Linked DNA regions of Homo sapiens. The protein of the gene in region 1 purifies or fractionates together with the protein of each later gene. This does not show direct contact. Each region holds a gene or a part of one and is shown on either strand. Other genes may lie near its edges.

Region 1 (3,831 bases):
TTTATTTGCATGTGTCAGTATTTTCTTAAGATAGATTTAAGACTATTTTCTAGATATTGAACACCAATGTATATTTCCACTGAAAGAGTATGACAAGTTCCATGTCTACCCTTGGTGTATAGTTTAATTTTCTTAAATATTTTTCTTTTTATAGAGAAGTTACAATTTTATTCTTTTAATTTGCAGTTTAATGACTTAATGGAGTTAATATTTTTAGTGCTTATAGGTGATTTATATTTTTTCTTCTCCCAATTTTTATTATTCTTTATGTTTCCATTGAAAAGCTAATATGTTCCTTACTGATTTGGAGAATTTATACAGTAAAGACATTTAATTATTAAAACATCTTCTTGGTTAATAATTTTCGTTTTAATTCATTTATATTTTTTAAATTTAGCAGTGGTTGAATTATTGTGGCAAAATACATTGTTTTTTCCTTTAATTTTTTTCTTTCATTAAAAAAGAAATGATTTTACTTATTCAGGAATTAGATAAATATGTACCCATTTTTAACTTTTTTTATATTTAGTACTTTAATGTAGCTGAAACTGACTTATTTATGATATGAGGCAAGAATATAACCTGATTTTCCCTGTAATGTTATATATGTTTATGTGTGTATATACATATGTTTCCATATATTTATAGGTATACATTAATGTGTGATTTACGATGTGTACTTGGTTATATATTAAAGATATACATAATATACTCTGAGATCCGTTAGACTGTATTATGTACATTTTATATTGATTTGCTTACAGATGTTTTCCTCTAAGAATGACATTATTTCAAAGATTAAAGTTTTCTTTTTTGTTTTAATATCTAATAGGAAAAGCCCCTCCTCCTGCTAATGATATTTTATAAATTTGATTACTTAGGTTTGCCAGAACCCAATAAAGATGCCATCTTCCAAGGCCTGACGCAGGACCAGGGGTTTTATACATCCAAAGACTTTTTGCCACTTGTAGCCAAAGGCAGTAAAGCAGGTATAACATATTGTCTTTTATGCTTAATAGTGAGTATGCTATTTTATTTATGATAAATTAATATCAAAATCAAGCTCAGCAGCACATTGTTCAGCTCTCACACCCAACCTTGCCTAAGACCCAAATGTAAAATTAAAAAAAAAAAGGCCGGGTATAACAGTTTGCCAGAATCATCTGTTTGTTCATTCTTCCAATAAAGTATCATCGTAAGGAATTTTCACTGTAATATATATGTCTAAACTACATCATGAAAAATTGCTTCAAGGTAAGCAAGTCCTTAACAAACATTGGAAGATGTTTTTCAAAGAAATGGCATGAATCGTCACATATCTTATATGATTTGTATCTACACAGGCAGAAAGATTGACTGTCTTCTCTTAAACAGTAATTTTATGATGTTAAAATAAAATACTTTGATAGACACCCTATCACTTTATACACCCCAAGAAGAACCACCTGAATGAAGGTTGTACCTTGGTTTGGCCTGACCAGAGTCATTGTCTTTGGGGAAAATTGTAATATTTTATCCAAAGTCAGATAATCTAAATCCTTCAAATGTATATTTTTAAAGAGGTCTGAGCCACAGCTATTCCTACATTAATTACATGTAGAAATGATACAAACTTTTATGCTTCTCCCAGGACTTAAAACAGTAAGAAACTTTCTATATTAAATTATTCTTCAGAAGTTTACAGCTAAAGATGCATACCCTCTCCACCTTCTGCCTCTCAGTAGAACTGGATGTTTGTATGTCTGAAACCCTTTCTGAGGAAGGTCATAGTGCACCTAGCTTGTATTTGAAAATTACAGAGTGTCCCAAATACAAAATCTTCCAAGCAAAATGATTACACTTATTGAAATTATAGGTTTATTCTATTCTTGGTACCATTTAAAAAATTATAGTAATTGATCTTATAAACAGTTTTATTTAATCTTATTATACACTGCTACCTAACACATAAGGAATACTTGCATTTTACTTTTTTTACAAGGATCTTCATATGGACAGCAAATCTTAATAGAGATGACCTTGAGAAATGGATGCTTAGAAAGTCATATTTCTTTTACTGCCCAGTTTCACAAACAAAACCAGAGGAAAGCAGTGAAAGGGAGAAAGATTTATTTGAACTATTTCAAGAAAATAGTTCTCAGAAATTCTTCAGTTACATAAAGGACACTTATTCAGCACGTTAATATTCAAAGTTAACAAAATATATAACAGAGGTATGTGTTAGAAATTATATAAGGTAATACATAAAAAAGTATTATAATGAAATATTGCAAACCGTTAACACAGATCATAAGGATCACTTTTTTCTTCTAGCAAAAGGAAAATTATGCTGAGTTAAAGATAGATAGCACAATTTTGATGAAGAGAGTTTTAATTGATTGATTCCAGTCTGTTATGACCTAAACTTCTCAAAATGTGTTGTAGGAATCCTAGAAGAAAAAAGAAACTAAAGATACTGACTATGAAATTACATATATGAGCATATTTTTAAAATGGGAATAAAACTGTCTTTCAATGAAGCAGAATAATTTGATAGTGACACTTCATCCTGGAAAACTGCAAGATGCAATTTTACACTGCTTTGAGTACAAGTATCTTTTGAGCTGTCATGCAGAAATGGTTTCTCTACTTGAAAATGGGGTTTTCCTTTCATCATTCAGGAATGTGCGCCTGTCACTCTCCATTGCCATCGATACGGGGAGTCGTGATTGTACTTGGAGCTGGAGACACTGCCTTTGACTGTGCAACATCTGCTCTACGTTGTGGAGCTCGCCGTGTGTTCATCGTCTTCAGAAAAGGCTTTGTTAATATAAGAGCTGTCCCTGAGGAGGTAAAATGGAACCATCAGAAAATATGGAGTTGTACTCCAACAGATTTTAGGAGATGAAACTGTTAATGTTTAAATCGCTAGAATGTTGAAATTGTCAAATTCAAGTTTAAAAATTTCAGGGCTACACATAATTGTTTCTTTTCTAATTCAGACATTCCAAGTAAAAGAAAATTTGTAATACTGATTTGGGTAAAATGAGAAATTTAATCTTTGTCAATACTCAAGGGCTTCTTGTTAGTGTTAATATGCTTGAAATGTATTCTATGTAACTAGTAACAATGTAAAGTGCTAAGTCTTCCATATCCTGAATAGTAGGTACTCTTCACAAAATGTATGCATATTAGAAGAATGTGGTAATAAGACACATACGGAATTTTCCGTAAGCCAATTTACAGACTGCATTCTAAGATGTATACCTTGGTCATACTTTCAGTCAGTTCATTATTTGTGAAGCAAATAGAAAGAAAAGGGTGTCATGTATATTTTTAAAGTGCTCTAATATAAGCACTACTCAAAATTAGTAGTTAGTTAGCATACTAAAAATAACGTTTGGCTGTGCGCGGTGGCTCACGCCTGTAATCCCAGCACTTTGGGAGGCTGAGGCCGGCGGATCACAAGGTCAGGAGATCAAGACCATCCTGACTAACACGGTGAAACCCCGTCTCTACTAAAAATACAAAAAAATTAGCCGGGCGTGGTGGTGGGCGCCTGTAATCCCAGCTACTCAGGAGGCTGAGGCAGGAGAATGGCGTGAACCCGGGAGGCGGAGCTTGCAGTGAGCCCAGATCGTGCCACTGCACTCCAGCCTGGGTGACAGAGAGAGACTCTGTCTCAAAAAAATAGTAATAATAACATGTTTAAAATCATTTCATTCTTACCAGTGACTGGTGAGTAGTCTTGGGTGAGGTATCGGCTATTTACATGTACTACACACTTCTCAAATTTTAATGCTATTAGAGAAATATAATACCTTATAAAGAATATTAGTTCTGAGAACAAGA
Region 2 (3,831 bases), on another chromosome or scaffold:
CTCCGTAGTCTCATGGCAGTTCTTATTAACTCTTGTCTTCCAGATGCTAGGCATGGTCCTGGACATGTCACAGAAATTACAGGTTGAGTATCTCTTATCTGAAATGCTTGGGACCAGAAGTGTTTTGGATTTAGGGTTTTTTCAAATTTTTGCATATTTGCATTGTCCTTACCAGTTGAGCATCTCTAATCTGAAAACTAAAATCTGGAAAGCTCCAATGAGTATTTCCTTTGGGTGTCACATTGGAGCTCAATAAGTTTCAGGGATGTGATTCCTGCCCTCAGGGAGCTCACAGTTGATGGGAAAGATAAGGCTCTAGCCCCTGGGAGAAAGTAAGTAGTACCTCAAGAGAGAGCAGAGGGCCAGGGAGACTTCAAGAGGAGGTGGCACTAAGAAGTGAGTCTGGGCCAGGCGCAGTGGTTCACACCTGTAATCCCAGCACTTTGGGAGGCCAAGGCGGGTTGGATCACCTGAGGTCAGGACATCAAGACCAGCCTAACATGGAAAAACCCCATCTCTACTAAAAATACAAAATTAGCCAGGTGTGGTGGCACACGCCTGTAATCCCAGCTACTGGGGAGGCTGAGGCAGGAGAATCACTTGAACCTGGGAGGCGGAAGTTGCAGTGAGCCAAGATCGTGCCATTGCACTCCAGCCTGGGCAACAAGAGCGAAATTCCGTCTCAAAAAAAAAAAAAAAAAAAAAAAAAAGTGAGTCTGGACCTGAAAAAATAAAAAATGAAAGCTTAGAAAGTTCTAGACAGAGGCAGCAGCATGAGCAAATGCTCAGAGGCCAGAAAGCCTGGAGATTGGGTGGGATATAGTCAGTAAAGAAGACCCGTGGGGATCAGTGAAGCCCATCAGTGGGAGGAGAGGTGGGAGTAAGCTTGGAAGGGTGGGTAGGGCCTTGAATGCCAGAGTAGGGAGTCTGGACTTGCCTCTGTGGCACCAGGGTGCACGGGTGGCCTGGGCAGAGGACTGGCATGGTGGGTGCTGTGCTTCAGGCTGATCCTTAGGGCAGCCTATCAAGAAGGCTTCTGATGGCCACAAATGAGCATGTTGTAGAGTGTGAGTTCTGCTAAGAAAACTTTCCCATTCTAGCTCAGAGTTAATTTATGCTTGGTTCAGATATGAACAAGGTTTCTGTTTCTAATTTTGATGTTTTTTTCCTTAAAAAAGAAATCAACAACAGTAAAAGCTTGAAATGGATACCATAATGAGGACAAGTAGGAGACAGCTCATAAGGTGGGGGTGGGGGGTAGATGAAAGTACAAATGTTCCTACCCAAAGAATGTCATCTCAGGAAAATATCAGATCATTTCTAAAGATACTTTTAGCCAACCTTTTACAAACACATGTTTTTCTATAATGACACTTCTGGTAAAAACAGCCATTTTTCTAAAAGCCTGCATGCACTAAGTTGTGGATGACATGCAGTTTTTTTTGTAAAGATATATTTCTAATAAATAACCATAACTTTCAGGCATGGCCTGCCTAGTGAGCTTTCTCTACATTGTTGCTATCATTACGTTCTCTTCCCCTATTTAAAGATCTGGACTTGTTGCCATCTCATGGGGCTGAGACTGACTACAGGAAATTTACTGAGATTGAGGAAAAAAGGAAAAAGAAGCAGTATTTGCCTTTGAGTACTTGGAAGCTCACTGATAAGCCCTGAGACACAGACACAAAGTGACTTCATTACAGTCTCCCCCGAGGATCCATCCCTGCCATCCCTCTCCCCTCCGCTCCCAACCCTACCCCGGTGATGAACTGCACAGACCTCTTACCGTCATCCTGGGCGGCAGCAGTCCTTTCTAGGGGCCTGTGGTATTGACATGCTTCAATGGAGGATGCATCACCTTTCCTTGATCATAATGAAAAAGTTCTCCAGATTAAAATGTTCCTACGCTCCCTTTCAGCAGTTGCATGCCCAGGTATCTGTCCTAGAGAGTCACTCCAGCATGTGCACATAGCACAGACCGGGACACAGTACCATGACACCAGTGAACAGTCTGAAACCACTGAGGTCTGTCAGCGTAGTTATGGCTAAAGACCAGTGTATCCTCACGATGGAATATCATGCAGCAATTTAAAAGAACAAGGTAGATCTACTTGGACCATCTCCAAGATGTATCAATAAATCATACAAAGCAAGTTTTAGAACAGCATGTTACTATTGATATCTGTGTGAAAAGCAAGCCGCCATACACACAAAACTGTGTATTACTTGAATTTCATGGGTAGACAGGGACTCATATATCTTTGTATGTGAATATCTTTAGATAAAATCTATGAAGCTACATCAAAGCAGTAACATCTGGGAGAGGAATAGGATTGGAGAACAGTATATCACTTCCTGTATATATATATATATGTATGTATATATGCATATGTATTTTTTACAATAAAAATATGTCTTACAGTCTTTAAAAGTAGACAGGGGTGTATGTGTCTTGAAGTAAAACATACTTTAAGACTCATTCTGAAGAATTCTGAAGACATTCTGAATAATGTCCATTTAGTTTGCAGCCATTGCTGACATCAGTGCGATACTGAAACCGTGCATAGGTCCCCCTCCCCATCACACACACACATGCACGTGCCTGCACAAAGACAATTTAAAGCCTAAATGTTGTGAAAGAATCATGTCTGCAGTGCCTGAATATTAGCCCAAAGATCATGAAATATATAGACAAAGCTGTAAGATTCTGTTTAATCTCTTGTTTGTGTTATGACTACATCCTAAGCCAGCCTATTCTAAAACACATATTTGGTCTTCTATTTTCAATTTTTTTTTTAACAGAAAAAATTTTGGCTGAAACACAACCTGAATTGGGAACGTGGGGAGATGGCAAAGGCGAAGATGAGTTATCCCCAGAAGAAATACAAATGGTAATGCTATTCTCTGCCTAATTATTTATTTTTAACTGGTTTTCATAAGACTGTTTCACTAAGGAGAAACTCATCCTCAATGCCCTTGCCCTTATTTTTATACTGAGTTTTAAAAATTATAAATGTGTATTTTATATACACTTTCCCATTTGATTTCCTAATTCTTACGGTGCTTTTCATATGCTTTAAATTTGCAGTAGCATAATTAAAGAAGACATTTTGCCTTGGAAGAATTTTACTAATAATAGATGTCTTTTCAACAACAGTAAAATAGTCTTCTAGACTAAATGGGTCTTTTATAAATGCCACTATGATGCTTTTTAATTGTTTGAATTGCTAGTGCTATGGTAATGTGAAAAAAGTAAGATAATGACTGAAAAGTGAAAAGAGTAACACCTTAACTACTGATAGCACCTCCTTTTAGTTACCTGCCTTCTGGTTTCCAGCTGCTATAGCTTACCATCTATGGGTGGGTTTCAAAAGGAACTGATAGGTCTGCCAAGCCCCTGCCAGCTCACGTCCAGCAATGTCTGTGTGCAGCTCATCTGGACACTGGTGTGACAGAAGCCAGATGGAATATGCTATCTGTGTGTGGGAATAGATGTCACCTAGAGCTGCTAGGATGTGACACTGTCCTCTAAGACGTGGGGAATGTGACTACCACACGGCACGCCTCCAGTGACTGTGCCTGGCAAGTGATAGCATTTTAAGTGTGCAGCAGTTTGCAGTAGACAAAACTTTTTGATTCTCATTTTATCCATGATACTTTTAATAATTGCACAAAGAGGTGGTGGAACATTAGCATCTCATTTTAACATTGGCAAAAGGCAGCAAAGGGTCTTGCCCAGAGTCCCCTAGTTAATCAGGGAAGAGCTGGATTTCCAGCCCTCAAGAAGATAAGGAGTGGAGCATGAAGACAGCTCTGTTGAGGAAGAATGGG

Evidence for each region.
Region 2: the proteins of DPYD (region 1) and STX18 fractionate together in Homo sapiens (co-fractionation; one large-scale study listed by BioGRID). This does not show direct contact.

Annotation. Positions count from the first base shown.
Region 1 is NC_000001.11:97,592,217-97,596,047, reverse strand, and holds part of DPYD (dihydropyrimidine dehydrogenase [NADP(+)]), read left to right. Parts: intron 1-881; coding exon 882-989; intron 990-2,660; coding exon 2,661-2,830; intron 2,831-3,831.
Region 2 is NC_000004.12:4,433,830-4,437,660, reverse strand, and holds part of STX18 (syntaxin-18), read left to right. Parts: intron 1-2,802; coding exon 2,803-2,891; intron 2,892-3,831. UniProt on the Homo sapiens protein: Syntaxin that may be involved in targeting and fusion of Golgi-derived retrograde transport vesicles with the ER.